2 separate regions of the Homo sapiens genome follow, and region 2 is linked to region 1. A link means that fine-mapping ties the variant in region 1 to the expression of a gene that starts in the linked region. Tissue or cell type: Th17 cells. Region 1 holds a variant in brackets; the other region holds the start of a gene. All regions are shown on one strand. Distances are between the middles of the regions.

Region 1 (8,381 bases):
TGTACAAATAAAAACTGCTCAACTGTGGAGAACTGTACTTAGCCATTATAATGAAACAGATTTGCTGTTTTATACAAGTAGAAATTTGTTATAGATACTAAATATTCGTGTTCATTTTTCCCTCTATTTTCCAAAATGTATGATAATCTCTACTGCTTTCTTCCTTCTTATATCAACTATGGAATATCAAAATTTTCTTAATTGTCTTAGGCCAAGATGCATTAAATCTCACCCTTTTCCATTGTTTGGAAGATAAATTTGGTTGGGATTTTTTGTTGTTGTTTTGTTTCCATTAAGATTTTTTTGTTTGTTTGTTTGAGACGGAGTCCTGCTCTGTCGCCCAGGCTGGAGTGCAGTGGCACAATCTCGGCTCACTGCAAGCTACGCCTCCCGGGTTCACACCATTCTCCTGCCTCAGCCTCACAAGCAGCTGGCACTACAGGCGCCCGCCACCACGCCCAGCTAAGTTTTTGGTATTTTTAGTAGAGACGGGGTTTCACTGTGTTAGCCAGGATGGTCTCGATCTCCTGACCTCGTGATCTGCCTGCCTCGGCCTCCCAAAGTGCTGGGATTACAGGCGTGAGCCACCGTGCCCAGCCCTCCATTAAGATTTTTTAAATTGTATCAATAGATATAAATATGTCCAAATCAATAACTTTTATTTGAAAACTAAAAATCCTGAGAGGCCAAATACAATGTTTAAAATATATAGTTAAATCAATAATAATTCTCCCTTCTGTAAAAGTAAATAATTATCTTTATGTGAGAACGAAAAAGGTATTTCTGTACTAGTAAGGCAGCAAATTATGCAAAAGCATGAACTACTATTGTGGTTGTAGGCCACAAATGGTAGGGACCTATCAAGAGGACACAAGAACCAGCTTGAAAGGACTCTCCCTGGTGACTTCTGAGACAAAGTAATGTCAGTAATGGATTACAATCCATTGAACAAAAAAAGAATACATGGTTCCCTGTTGATATAAACAGTAAGTGTATAAAAAAATCAACAGGGAGAAAGACAAGTTCTTTCTTACAATAGAATATCAACCAATAAATGTAGAAGAAATGACAAGTTAGAAAACTATCATTCGGAAATTATCAAAATAATTGATTCAGGCAGGAGTCACCAGTGGAGGCTGAAACTAATGAGTGAAAGTGTGGTGAGGATCAGGATATTTACATAGTTTCAGAATATCTTCCACAAATTGCTCATTAATTGTCAGATAGAAAAATAATAACTTTACATTGGAAAATTCTAAAAAAATGCCACCTTAATAAAATAAAATAAAATAATGCCACCTTAATAAAATAAAGTTCATGTCACCAATGATGGGACATGAACCAACAACATATGCCTCCTGATATGAAGCACTAAGAAGGACACACATCGTTCTGTAGCATTTCTGCCCCAAAATACCTAATCCGAATCTAATTATGAGGAAGTATTAGACAACTGAGGGACATTTTAGTCTATCTCTCTTGAAAAACTGTGTACTCTTCAAAATTCCTTATACTCTGCAAAAATGTCAAAGATGAAATATCATTAAAAAATGCTGAGAGGCCAGGCACAATGGTTCACACTTGTAATCCCAGCACTTTGGGAGGCCGAGGTAGGTGGATCGCTTGAGCCCAGGAGTTTGATCCCAGCCTGGGCAACACAGTGAGACCCCATCTCTTAAAAAAATGCAAAAATTAGCCAGGTGTGGTGATGTGTGCCTGTAATCCTAGCTACTTGGGAAGCTGAAGTGGGAAGATCACATGAGCCCAGGAGGTCGAGGCTGCAGCGAGCCAAGATCATAACACTGTGTTCCAGCCTGGATGACAGAGCGAGATTCTATCTAAAAAAAAACAAAAAAACAAAAAAACTGAGGAACTGTTCCAATTTAAAAGAGTGTAAAGAGTTATAACAACTAAATGCTATGTTCAGTCCTAGATTAGATTCTGGACCAAGGAGAGGAAAGTAACTAGAAAGGGCATGATTGGGACAATTGAAGAAATTCAAATATAGACTGTGGATTAGATAATGTCATTGCATCATGTTAAATTTTCTGATATTGATAATTATACTTTTGTTATCCTACAAAATGTATTTATTATGAAGTATAGATATTGAAACACTTAAATGTAAGGAGGCAAAATGTTTCCAACTTATTCTCAGGTACAGAAAAATATGAATGTGTGTATATATATTTATTTATACATAAATATTTATGTATAGAGAGAAGGGAGAGTGAATGATAAAACAAATGGGAAAAATGTAAACAGTTTGTGGATCTGGATAAACAGAATATGAGAGTTATGTAATCTTTTCTCATAGCTTTTTTCTAAGTTTGAAAATATATACAAAAGAGTGACAAAAAAATGTTGAAAAGCAAAATTTTCTCATCAGTAAAGGCAGTCATTTACATTGTACTGTGATGAAAAAGAAAAGCCTGGCTTATTCAAATAAGCAGCCAAAGCTCTTATTTCCTAGTCATCAGTTATCTTTGCGTGCTTTGAAGTTGGAGTTCTCTTTCATGTTTGTATTGTTTTTATTTGTTTGTAAGTATAATGTGGGAACCAAAAAGAGTGAAAATGGGACACTCTGGTAAGTTATCTCTACCACTTTAGGGGACAGGAAGCAGCTGACAAGCTTTAGCACTACATTTTCATGGTTGTTTCCCAAGAATGGCCATAAATTACATCCTTCAAGTCAGTCCCAACTAGTGGGAATTCATATGAAAAATTACTTGCTGGTTCTCAAGCTTCTTGCACGTCCCTCTTGACATTTTGTCATAGGAAAACTGGGGGTGGATGGATTGTAAAATATTTCTCAACATTACAAAACATTTTAAAGCTGATACCAGACCTACACTCATATCTGCTGATTACAAATAATTCTAAGCTATTCTGGTATGCCCTGAGCATCTGTCTTATATGCAAAATAAGTGGCCTCTTCTGTTTTCCCCTGTCTTCTTGAACTGTCTGTCTCTTTTCAAAAACTGTGTATTCTTCAAAATTCCTGCAATGCCGAATGAAAAACGGAGGCCATCCACTACAGTGGAAAATGTAGAGCAACTCCAAGAAAAGAGGCTGGAAGAAAAGACAGGCTTAGAGATGTCTGACAGACTTGAAGATGGTTTCCATTTTCCCATTTTGCAAGAGGGGCAATGGATCCTCTAACAACAGAGCCTGAGTTAGTATGTTATCATGTATTACCTCGTTTAATCCCCTCAATATCTCTATGAGATAGGCACTATTTTTATCCCTATTTTGTAGCTCAGATACAGGCTTAGAGGTTTAGAGAAGTAAATAACTTGTCAAATGTGAGTAGTAGGGTTGAGATTTGCACGAAAATGCGCCTGACTTCAGGGTCTGACTTAAGCTTAAACTGCCTTGTTTTATTGATCATATTGATCACTCTATTTCTTTCTCCTGAGGACTCGCAAAGCAATGATAATACCATTCTGCTCTTGCATCATTTGTTGCACATTCTTGTTTAGAAAGAAAATACTAACAACTATTAGAGATTTTCTGAACCTAGTAATTTCATTAACAAGCATTCCCCAAGTCTACAGGGCAAATTTTTTGATACTCACAATGTTACTTCTTGTGAAAATTTTGAAGTGATTTCTGAATCATCAGAGAGATAGAGATTAAAGTGACACTGTTTTAAAAGTTGGTAATTATCATACAATTGCATGAAAGCTGATGTGGTATTTGTGGTAAACTTCCGTATTAGGATGGGTAAGCCTGTATGGCAGGGTTCTTAACCTGAACTCCAGATCCAGCAAAGGGTCCACAGGTAGATTTCAGGGGGTCTGTGAACTTGTATGGGAAAACATTTCATCTACATTTTCATGCACCCTTAAATGACATTTGGCACTGCCTTCCATGATGAATGTAGAAACAAATCACAGTGTTAGCAATACCTGTGACTTTGTCCCTAATAGAAATGATGGATATTTCCATTCGTATCAGTTGTTGCTGATATCTCAAAATGTTATTTTTCGTCATCATTAATGTGAAATCATAATTAATAAGCTCAAGACCAGATTATATTGAACATATTAATAAAGAATGTAATTACTATATCACCTATTTATTTTAAAAAATGTTTTTCTAACAGTATATCAATATTTATAAATATATATATAT[ATT/T]TTTTTATTATACTTTAAGTTTTAGGGTACATGTGCACTTTGTGCAGGTTAGTTACATATGTATACATGTGCCATATTTCATCATAGTTGATTTTATTTGTAATGACATATATTTTATATATATTTAAAAAGTATTATTATGAGAAATAGTTCAAAGGCTGTGCACAAATGGTTTACAGCACAAAAGGGGTGAAAGATCCAGCTCTATAATATAAACTTCATGGTAGCCCTAGTGGAGAATACCCTTGCTTAACAACTGGCTGTTTTCAGAGTCCCCTGGGGGCCCTGCAGTGACTCCAGGAGTAGAGAAAGGCTGTAAATGCTAGAACAAGATAATTGTCAGGTACTACCAAGAAGCCCTACCCAGCCTTCCCAATTAGAAGACAGGAGTCCCCCAATCCCAACCACTTTCAGGTCCTAGTTTCTGCCCAACCCCATTACCTGTTCTTCTTACTCAATTTTAATGAAAGCAGCTCTACTGGCAGCAACTTCATTGTGACCCCAGTGCTCTGGCAAGCTGGGCCTGTGTCAGCAGGCCACAGGGGTGGATGAGAGCCAAGACTTTTGTGATTGCCTCTACCCTCATTTTCCTGTGGAAACACAGCTCAGAAGGACTATGCTGGAGGGTTGATCAGCTTGGTTATGTATTTGCTTTGCGGAAACCTTAAGTTGTCCTTTTATGTGTCACTTTCTCTCATTTCATTTTTTTAATCCTTTATTTTCCAACAGGCAGGTTCTGGTCACACCTACCCAGGTGGCACCAGGTGTGTGCATGTTTTTCCAAAAGTTACAATGCAGCATAGACACTGGAAAATGAAGATGAAAAAACACAGTGGTGTTAGATTACTTCATATACTTCAACACCATGCCTGCTTTTTCCTTTTTTTAATTGCTTGTTTTATATTCTTTATTTAGTTTTTTCCAGTCTGAATATCTCTTAGCTGAGTTTCTTATCCCAATTAATCATTTTATACATACACTGGTTTCTTTTCCAAGTCTCTTTGTAAAGCAAGAATCAATATGAGGTGTCAGTGTCTAAAGCCTTCACACTTAGCAACTTAACATTTTAAAAAATGAAAATATATAATACTACAATTTCATTTAAATTAACTATTCTGAAGCTCCTCCATCAAATATTAGGAAAGACCCTTTTAAAGTTTAATACATTTTTAAAATTCTAGGTATGAAAATTCTGTTTACATAATAGTCTTTAAGTTGCTGTCTCACCTAAATAAGACACAGAGGCAGTGTTTATGAATATGATTGCCGAGTGAGATTGAGACAAATTTCAACCTACATTGATTGTCCTATTTGGCAGGAGACCAACGAGCTGCCACATAATGTACGCACCAGAAGACTGGCTATGTTCTTTGGCCATCAGCGGATGTCCATGGTTGCTGCCTATAATTGCAGTGTTTTTCCCATTCTGCAAATTTCTCATTAATCAGGTTACTTTAGCTATTTGGCCAAATTTTCCTCGAAGAAAATGAAATACAATCAATCCCTGATTCTTTTCTGATTATTAGAGACACTGCTCTCCTTCATAAGGAACAATAATCAAAGTAGAATTTATATTTGGCTTCATAATGCAATATGTGAGTTTTTCCAACAGATTTGCCCTCTTAATTGCTTTGGTCTGGCAAACTTTAAAAGGAACTTGCCTTACGTGGATGGCAGTATGAGGTTGTCCAGAACTGAACCGGGTGGTTGGCAATCTGAACAAAGCTTCTGTGCTTTATTGATTGCCAGGGAGACTCGGGGGCTAAATGGCAAGCCAAAAGACAAGGATTCAGAATATATAACTGTACTAGTTTGCTAGCACTGCCTCAACAAAGTACCACAAGCTGGGGGGCTTAAACAACAGAAATTTACTGCCTCATGCTTCTGGAGGCTAGAACTCCAAAATCAAGGCGTCAGAAGGATTGGTTCCTTCCAAAGTCTGTAAGGGAGGATCTGTTCCCTGCCTCTGTCCTAGCTTCTGGTAACCTCAGGCCGTCCTTGGCTTGCAGATGGTGTTCTCCTTATGTTTCCATATCATCTCTCTGTGTGTGTCTGTCTCTGTGTCCAAATTTCCCCATTTCATAAGAACATAGTCATATTTAATCACTTAGGGCTTACTCCAATGAAATCATCTTAGCTTGATCATCAACAAAGATCTTATTTTTAAATAAGGTCACATTCACAGATACTAAGATTAGGACTTCAGTGTCCTTTGAGGGGACACAATTCAACCCATAACACTATCTATCTTGAAAAATCACCAGAGAGGATAATTTATAGCCATTGGTAAAATTTATGCAAATCATACAATTTCCCTTCAGTCAATGCATTTATTCTGGGTGCCATATTTAGATGATAGGCTGCCAAAAGTAATGCACCGTGAATATTCTTTTTCTTTATATTATAAAAGCTATTCAATTACTCCTGGATTTTCCAGGAACTATGGTTCTCTAGTTCCTTATAAATCTCAATGGTATTTTTCTGAATCTTACTGCTTTCCTTTTATTTATAAATACTAGACTCTCCCACTTTAAGCAAATTTCTAAAGACTGGGGTAAAAGATCTCTTTTGTGAGCAAAGTGCATGTCTAGGGCCCTGTTATTTAAGAAATTTAAGATCATCAATTTCAAACATTCAAAGCCTATACTGCTGGTTCATATTTTTCACTATCCAGAACAGTAATCTTCACAATGGTTAGCTGTGTTCTCTAAAAGTCGCAGATAATTGTTATCACATTTAAAATCAAGCACCCATCACAACTCCCCAGTTCTTTCTTTTAGGAAAACCTAAAGAAACCTTGGATGACCTTAAGACTCTATGGAAAAGCTGGAAAAACACTGACCCAGAAAACAAATGTGTAACAAGTCACATTTTTTCCATTACTTAAGGGAAATTGTGGTGCGAATTTTTTTCTTAATCTCTCTGCTAAGTGTAAATATGTGACTCACCCGAACTACCTCATTCTTAGACCATAAATATTAGGAGTGATGACTTATAAGGGGCTCATGTTCATGTGTGGTAAGTAAATACTTGTCTGCACATATTAATTTAACAAGAAAATGGCATTTTCCTAAGTAGCATAACATCAGAAACAGTAGAGAATTTAATATAAGTAAAAAGCAGTGTTATATTTTAAGAAAATTACTATGATGAAAGAATTCATTTTTTTCAAAGAGTAATATAATAATATTAGGCTTTAATACCTAAGAACATGCATGCTAGATCTGGTTCCAATCCAAAAAAGTTCTATGAAACTTCAAATACCATGTGAAGGTTAACTTTTAAAAATACATTTCTTCAGAGCAAATTTCTATTCCTAGTCCATGCGAAACCACAGGGTGGTGCTCCAGCTGGACTGGTTTCCTCAATTCAAGTTATCCTTGTCCAGTTTCCTTCTTAGGGCACTGCTACATGAAAACCTGATGTGTTCTGTGTTCTTGCAGCAAACTCCTACTGTGTCCTATCTTGGCTCAGGCAGGACAAAATGAAGCTCTCCATCTCTAGGAGGTGGCTTGCTTCAGAGCCTTCTCTGTCCAAAACAAGAGTTTTTTCCATATTGTTTCTCTCTAGGCTTTTGAAATTAGAGGGGAAACACTATGGATAATAGCTTCAGAAAATATGAAAAGCTCACCTATTACAGCAGATGGGACTGAAGTATCAGTCCATATCTAAGGCAGGTGAATTGGTGCATTTGAAGCATTCCAAGTCAGTAGGACAGCCAGAAATATGAAATGAAAAGCACTAGTTTTCCTTAGCAATGAAATTTTGACTCCTATGACTTTGCTAATGCTGTGTTCTGCTTTCCTTTCTGCCTATTCTATTTGTACAACCTTCTGTGCCTTCCTCAGATGGCTTTCCAAAACATCTGTGGGCAATATTCCCTTCACTGAACAGCAATGGTACTTTAAGTGCAAAACAAAACAGCATTTACCTTTTGCAATTTATAGTTCCTGGGTTATTTCATGTGCCTTGTGGTTATCTCAGGAGCCCTTTATTAATCTCCGAACTGTAGGCAAGAAGGTGGTCTTGTTGTCATGGTAATAACTTCAGTACTTAGCACATGGAACGCAGCATTTATTGTAAAATACTTTTCCAATCAAATGGTTGCAGCAGTTTTAGAAGTCATAACAGTAAGGGTAGCATGCAGTTCATGAATTCCTTCATCAGGAGGAAAAGACTGACCTGATTTATAAAGGAAAAGGAAGCATAATAAAAGTGGAATTCTGTTAACCTAACCATATT
Region 2 (8,381 bases), 220 kb after region 1:
TGGTTGTTGCTGGCCCAATGAGTCCCTAGTCACATCCCCTGCCAGAGGGAGTTCTTCTTTTGTGAGAGACACTGTAAACGACACAAGAGAACAAGAATAAAACAATAACTGTGTGTGTTCTGGCTGAGACCTTCATTTCCCTGCTTTCTTGCTTTGAACAAATATGATAACTGGATGGTTCACATTCATGAGTTCCCTCAGAGGGGATGGGGATGAGGAAAACACACTGGAGGAGATATTTACATCTTTGGGAACAAATTGGTCCCCTATTACACTATAATAGGCAATGCACATTCAGAATACAGCCAGTGGGAAATCTACATTTTACTTATTTAGTTAGCTATTTTTAATTTCGACTTTTATATTAGGTATAGAGGGTACATGTGCAGGTTCGTTACATGGGTATATTGCATCCAGGTAGTGAGCCTAGTACTAAATAGATAGTTTTTCAAAAAATGCCCCACTCCCTCCCTTACCCCTCAGGTAGTCCACAGTGTCTACTGTTTCTATGTTCATGTCTATGTGTGTTCAGTGTTTAGCTCCCACTTATAACTGAGAACATATGGAAGTTGGTTTTCTGTTTCTGCATTGCTTTGCTTAGGATTATGGCCTCCAGCTTCATCCATATTGCTGCAAAGGACATGATTTTACTTTTTTATTATGACCATATAGTATATCATGGTATATATGCACCACATATTTTATCCAATCCACCATTAATGGGCAACTACATTAATTCCGTGTCTTTGCTATTGTGAATGGCACAACAATGAACATACATGTGCATGTCTGTTTGGTACAACAATCTACTTTCCTTTGGATATATACATAGTAATGGGGTTGCTGAATCAAATGGTAGCTCTGTTTCAAGTTTTTTGAGAAATCTTCAAACTGGTCACTCTCCATACGTTCGTAAAAATATTATGCCTTGGAATGCTAACGTTACTCCTAAAAATTGGAGTACTCTCCTTGGCCTTACTGTAGAGATAAAAGGTATAGATGTCCTCATTACTTAGAGTTGCTTTCCACAGTGGCTGAACTACGTAACTGCTTAAGCTACATCCCCATGAATAATGTATAAGCATTCCCTTTTCTCTGCAGTCTCACAGTGTCTGTTGTTTTTTGATTTTTTAATAATGGCCATTCTGACTAGTGTGAGATTGTATCTCATTTTGGCTTTGATTTGCATTTCTCTGATAATTAGTAACGTTGAGCATTTTTTGTAGGCTTATTGGCCTCTTGTGTGTCTTCTTTTCAGAAGTATCTGTTTATGCTCTTTGCCCATTTTCTATTGGGGTTATTTGTTTTTTGCTTCTTGATTTGTTTAAGTTTCTTATGGATTCTGAATATTAGACCTTTGTTGGATGCATAGTTTGCATATGCTTTCTCCCATTTTGTAGATTGTCTATCAATAGTTCCTTTTGCTCTGAAGAACCTCTTTAATTAGGTCCCACTTGTCAATTTTTGTTTTTGTTGCAATTGCTTTTGAGGACTTAGCCAAAAATTACTTGTCAAGATTAATGTCAAAAAGAGTATTTCCTAGGTTTTCTTCTAGGACTTTTATGGTTTGAGGTCTTAAATCTTTAATTCATCTTGAGTTAACTTTTTATATGGTGAAAGATGAGGGTGCAGTTTCATTCTTCTGCATATGGCTAGCCAGCTATCACAGCACCATTTATTGAGTAGGGAATCCTTTCCCCATTGATTGGTTTTGTTAACTTTGTCGAAGATCAGATGGTTGTAGGTATATGACTTTATTTCTGGGTTCTCTATTCTGTTCCATTGGTCTATGTGTTTGCTTTTGTACCAGTACCATGCTATTTTGGTTACTGTAGCCTTGTAGTATAGTTTGAAGTTGGGTAATGTGACGCCTCTGTTTTTGTTCTTTTTGATTAGGATTGCTTTAGCTAGTCAGACTCTTTTTTGGTTCCATATAAATTTTAGAATAGTTTCTTTTCTAATTCTGTGAAGAATGACGTTGGTAGTTAGATAGGAATAGCACTGAATCTGTTAATTTCTTTGGGCAGTATGGCCATTTTGAAGATACTGATTCTTCCTACCCATGAGCATGGAGTGTTTTTTCATTTGTGTCACCTCTGATTTCTTTCAAAAGTGTTTTGTATTTCTCCTTGTAGAGATATTTTACCTCCTTGGTTATCTGTATTCCTAGGCATTTCATTTTATTTGTAGCTATTGTAAATGAAATTGTGTTCTTGATTTTACTCTCAGCCTGGACATTATTGCTGTATAGAAATGCCACTAATTTTTGTACACTTATTTTTTTCCTGATACCTTACTGAAATCATTCATCAGTTCCAGTAGCCTTTTGGCAGAGTCTTCAGAGCTTTCTAGGCATACAATCATATTGTCAACAAGGAGAAATAGTTTGACTTTTTCTTTTCCTGTTTAGATGCCTTTTATGTCTTCCTCTTGCCTAATTGCCCTGGCTAGGGCTTCCTAATTTCTTTTGTAATATTTTCACATGAAAATTCTCCTAAGCTTAAAACTACATATCCCAATGCCTGTGGAAATCTCATCTTGGACTTCCTCAGACACTTGTGAGCAAAATCAAACTTCATCTCATTCTTCTGCTTAAGACTTTTCAGTGGTTCCCATCACCTACAGAATAAAATTGATGCTCCCGCGCTTAGTGTATCATATAAAGCCTGCTGTGAGCTGGTCCCAACATGCCTTTCTGTCCACATGTATCACTTCCTTCCTTTTCATCATTCTCAATTACTAGTAATTCTGTCACACATTATATTTGCATATCTGTGCTTTGGTTCTTTTTTTTTTTTTTTTTTTTTTTTGAGACGGAGTCTCGCTCTGTCGCCCAGGCTGGAGTGCAGTGGTGCTATTTCGGCTCACTGCAAGCTCTGCCTCCCGGGTTCAGGCCATCCTCCTGCCTCAGCCTCCCGAGTAGCTGGGACTACAGGCGCCCGCCACCACACCTGGCTAATTTTTTGTATTTTTAGTAGAGATGGGGTTTCACCATGTTAGCCAGGATGGTCTCAATCTCCTGACCTCGTGATCCACCTGCCTCAGCCTCCCAAAGTTCTGGGATTACAGGTATGAGCCACCACGCCCGGCCTGTGCTTTAGTTCTTTACATGAAACTCCCTTTCTACCTTGTGTTGCCTGGCAAAATCTTACTTACCCAGAACTCTGCTCCGGCATCCTCCGCAGGAAGAACACTTTCATTGAACCCTAGCATTGTCCCTAATACCCTTAATATGTATTGTCATAGCACCCTATGAATTTTTCTATATCACTTTCCATCTTATATTTAAATAATCTTTTTACTTGCCCATCTCTCCCACTGATAATCTAAGCTGGCAGAGGCTGGATCAGATCATAATTATCTTTCTATTCTTAGCGCTAGGATCAATGCCTGGCATAGCATATTTACATTTTTTATTTAAATAAACTGACCTGACTTTCTTCTGGTTGGATATGTTCTGAGTCCCTATTACTAACCTTGGTCTTTTATCTCAGAAGTTGAAGGCTCCCCTGGAGCCAGCTGCAAAGTTCCCAAAGCCCTAACAACCCCACAGCCAATCAGCTACAGAGTAGGCTGCCCTGAGTCGGCCTCCCCAACACAAAGTCCAGGGTTGGAGCAGGAGCAGGAGAGGGACAATGGAAGCTGCCCCGTCCAGGTTCATGTTCCTCTTATTTCTCCTCACGTGTGAGCTGGCTGCAGAAGTTGCTGCAGAAGTTGAGAAATCCTCAGGTAAAAGAAAAATGTAGTTGGGTGGCTATAGTGTGAAAGTGTTATTAGGAGAAGGAAAGGGAGCATGGTGGTTCTCTGGGTACTTTTCCTCCACACCTAGAAAGCTTTCCAGGAAATCCTGGATAAGTGCATTTTGCCTGGTAGAGAGTAGGGAAGTCTGGCAGTATCCTTCAGAGACAGACCATCAGTAGGGTCACCTTCCATATGTTAGTAAAAATATTATGCCTTGGAATGCCAACAGTACTCCTATAAATTGTGCTCTTCTTGCCCTTAGTATAGAGATAAAAGGTATAGATGCCCTCATTATTTAGAGCTGCTTCTTCTTGCCTCAGTACCCTGACATCTTCTGCTTCTCTCTCTAGATGGTCCTGGTGCTGCCCAGGAACCCACGTGGCTCACAGATGTCCCAGCTGCCATGGAATTCATTGCTGCCACTGAGGTGGCTGTCATAGGCTTCTTCCAGGTTAGTTCCCTACTTGCAATTCCCCCAAGAGCCAGAAATGTTCTACCTTAAGGGAACCACAGCAGCCACCTGCTGCTGGCAGATGGCACTGCATTAGAAGTGGGGGTAAAGGGAGACAGCCACCCAGTTTGATTTCATCTTGTCCATTGGGACCTCTTATTTTCAAGACATTCCCAGTCTCTAAATTATATCTTTCTCATACTTACTTCAAGAGTTCTGAGCCTGTGGGCTGCATCTCCTCATCTATGGATGCTTTGAAGCTCAAGTCAGTATCTGCAGAAAGAATGCCTTCATGGAACCCCACCATTGTCCTAAACACATTTGGTCTATACTCTCATAGCACCCTATGAATAGGCAGGGGCCAGAGTGAACCCAATTTATATCATCCAGCAACACTGTTTACAGGATGCCAAACATCCTGGACATTAGTCAGTGCACAGCCTTTTAAAGCCTTTCCCCCAAATATGGTAGACTCTCCTTCTTTCTCTTTGCCTTGTCTGAAATGTTGGAAAATGATGGCATTTTGTATATTCAAGGTGTTAACCTCCATCTTCCAGATTAGCTTCTTGACTAAGAAAGGCAGCCATAAATGAGACTGCCTCATTCCAGCATTTTCATCTTTCTCTGGTGGTAGCATCTGGAAATCCTCACAGCTGATCAAGCCCCTACTCTCTCATAGCAGACCTTCTTGTCTGTTTCCATTTCTCAGTTACAACTCCTGATTACCCTGTCAGTTCTGCGTACACAGTTGGAAATCACTGCAATGAGATGCAAGTCAGGGAGAAAGACAGGGACAACATTTTTCAGGAATGAGAAATCTGAGCTGTAGACAAAAACACCGTCAGAAAGATGGGGAAGGGGCAAGAGCATGGAATTGGAGGAGTGTGCAATAACTTAAACAGCCGCCAGATGCCATCATTTTATCCTCCAGCAATTCCATCTGAAGGAGCAGAATAAGAGAGGAGGCCTCAATTAATTATTGTTCATGGCCTCTAGAAGAGTAGATACCAGCTCCCTCTGCTTGACCCCAGATGCAAGACGGGTATGTTAGTTTCTTCTCATGCTGCCAATAAAGACATACCCAAAACTGGATAATTTATAAAGGAAAGAGTTTTAATTGAATCACAGTTCAGCATAGCTTGGAAGGCCTGAGGAAATTTACAATCATGGCAGAAGGAACCTCTTCACAGGATGGCAGGAGAGAGAATGAGCACAAGCAGGGGAATGCCAGACGCTTAAAAAACCATCAGATCTTGTGACTCATGCACTATCACGAGAACAGCATGGGGGAAACTGCCCCCATGATCCCATTACTGCCACCTGGTCCCACCCTTGACATGTGGGGATTATGGGGATTACATTTAAAGATGAGATTTTAGGTAAGGACACAGCCAAACCATATCAACTGGCCATCTTCTTTTCTCCTTGCACATCTCCTCCTTCAGCCTGGGGACTTGCAGGGTAGAACATGTTTGTTCCTGTTAATTTCCTGGAGCTGCTATGGATAAAGGTCCCGTGAGAGCAGGGAAAATGATGCCAGCGTCTATGGAAGGCCTGGAATCACTGTTCGCAAGTGGCTTCTCTGCTGCCTCCTGCAGGCCTGGGCTGCAGAGTTGAATGCGTGAACAGCATCTTCATGTGCAAAGCTCAGGTTTATCTACAGTGGCAAGAGAGGGACTGTCCTTCCATAACCTGCATAAACTTTTGTTAAAACTTCTAAGCTTTCATTTTAATTGTTTTATTTTTCTTCTTTTTTTCTTTTTTGGCCCTTTTGATGGCGTCTATTTCATATTTTTGCATTTTTTCCTTTCATCCACAAATGTAACCAAAGCCAAAACTCAAGAGGAAGAGCCGGTGGGAGGAAAAGCCAGTTTATTTGAAGATCCAGTAAACCAAGAAGACAGCGGACTAGCATCCTAAAGTACATCTTGGCCGGGCACAGTGACTCACACCTGTAATTCTAGCACTTTGGGAGCCTGAGGGAGGTGGATTGCCTGAGCTCAGGAGTTCAAGGCTGGCCTGGGCAACATGGCAAAACCACATCTCTACTAAAAATACAGAAAAAATTAGCCAAGTATGGTGGTGAACACCTGTAGTCCCAGCTACTCAGGAGGCTGTGGCACAAGTATCCGTGAGGCAGAGGTTGCAGTGACCCAAAATTTTGCCACTGCACTCTAGCCTGGGTGACAGAGCAAGACTCTGTGTCAAAATAAATAAACAAAGTACATCTTAAGCCACTACCAATTTTAGGTTCTTTGTATGTTAAGGGCAGGGTGAAGAGGAGGGAGTTGGGATCAAGTGATAACCGGCAACCACAGGCATCTGGGCCCCAGCAAGTGTCTCAGGAAGTTGGGAACTTCTTTGTCCTTGGTCAGGTCACAAGGCACCTATAAATCTGTAGCACTACATAGTTAGTTGTTTACATACTTTTCCTTTAATCCCAGAGTTAGTTTTAAAAACTATATAACTCCTATTTTTGCCTATTATCTCAGTGCTCTAAAATTATTCTAACCTACATGCAGGAATGAGTAAATAAATGCCCTTTAAACAAAAATAGAGTTGGTTATGTTAGTTTGTTTGCTATTTCACCGTTAAACAAATTGTTCCCAGAAGAGTTGCTTCTCATGTGTATCTACAACAGTGCAGCCAAACTAGGCAGGCCTTTATGATTTTGAGGCCTCTCTCAGCCCCTAGTAAACTTCAAGCTCTATGACAAGGCCTGACAGGAGTCTCAGGCTCAGCTACAATTTCGTGGTTACCTATTAACTTACAGAGCCTGGAAAATTCAAGAATGTCACTGCCAGTTAAACCTGAATTGTTAGGGGTAAATCATGTGTTACTGGGCAGTAAATCAAATCTATGATTTCTGGTAAACATCATATCATATTTCTTTTGCCTATCGTTTGTCTCTGCCCTTCGAAATAACCACTGTGGTATTATTTTTTCTCTTGTTTTTAGGATTTAGAAATACCAGCAGTGCCCATACTCCATAGCATGGTGCAAAAATTCCCAGGCGTGTCATTTGGGATCAGCACTGATTCTGAGGTTCTGACACACTACAACATCACTGGGAACACCATCTGCCTCTTTCGCCTGGTAAGTTGGGTGGGTAGCTTGAGCTTTCTCCCAGATTTTCACTGGGTTGTGGACTCATAAACTTGTGAGACTGGAAAGGACTCTATGTCTTTTACACTAATGATGGTACCAAATTCAGGGACATTGTTGACAAGGATGATGACTCAATTCAAGCTTCCCAAACAGGTACTGTAATGAAATGGAAAGAGGACAGGACTGAAAGCCAGGGAATGGAATTTGTGGTACTGCTTTGTCGCTCAACAGCCACATGACTTTGGGCAGTCACTTAACATTTTTTATCTCCAATTCTTTCCTTTATAAAATAAAAGAGTTAGACTGTATTATCTCTAAGGTCACTTTGAGCTCCAAAATTTTTATATTAAATATTTTGAGGAGTTCATTTATGTTCTTCAAACATTTATTAAATACTTCCTGTATGCCCTATGCAAGATACCGATAATAAAAACATATTAAATATATTCTCCAGTCTCATAGATCTTTAAGTATGGTAGGTATTGTATATATAATATGCAAGTATCTATAATAAAAAGAGAATCACTATGGGTAAAGTTTTATCACAGTTCAAAGGATAGAAACAGTGTGGGAATTCTGAAAAAAAAGAAAAGAAAAAGACAACAGAATTGAAACTTGAAGGATAGATAAGTTTAGACAAGCTAAAGAATTCATGGCCAACGGGAAAAAACTCAGGAAACAATAAACAGGCCAATCTCACTGGATCCCAGGGTACACATTGGGGAAAATGAATATAAGAGAAAGAAACTTGATTAAAATCGTATTGTGGGGAAAAAGTAGAATACCACTTTAATGAGTTTGTCCTGAATTTGGCTGTTACTGGAAAGCCCCTAAAGCCTTTACATCAGGGGAGTAACATGAACAGAAATGTGTTTTATTAGATTATTTTGACAGCAAGGTGGAGGATGGATTTTTAGGTTAAAAGGCAAGAGAAGAGGGAGCTTTTGTTAGGCTGACAAAATAGACCATGTGAGAAGTATTAAGAGTCTGTAGTAGAGAGGTAGCAACAGAAATTAAAGAAGAGGAAGATCCTGTGATCATTAGATATCACAGTTATGGAAAGCAGGCAAAGCTTAAAGCC

What was found. PIP is the estimated chance that this variant, and not a neighbour inherited with it, causes the effect.
Region 2: it holds the start of ERP27, and the variant in region 1 is fine-mapped to the expression of ERP27 in Th17 cells (Schmiedel 2018, PIP 0.95).

What each region holds. Positions count from the first base shown.
Region 1 is chr12:15,151,760-15,160,140 of GRCh38, reverse strand. All of the region lies in intron 2 of RERG (RAS like estrogen regulated growth inhibitor), which reads left to right. RERG-AS1 (RERG antisense RNA 1) reads right to left here and starts at 8,218. Exons shown (of 3, transcript NR_046559.1): 1 at 8,071-8,218; 2 at 5,801-5,901; 3 at 4,858-4,945. The variant ATT/T (reference allele first, on the strand shown) is at 4,138.
Region 2 is chr12:14,933,763-14,942,143 of GRCh38, reverse strand. ERP27 (endoplasmic reticulum protein 27) reads left to right here and starts at 3,607. Exons shown (of 7, transcript NM_152321.4): 1 at 3,607-3,729; 2 at 4,092-4,192; 3 at 7,151-7,288. The coding sequence starts at 3,636. ARHGDIB (Rho GDP dissociation inhibitor beta) reads left to right here. Exons shown (of 6, transcript NM_001175.7): 6 at 1-113. RefSeq lists an enhancer at 4,092-4,151.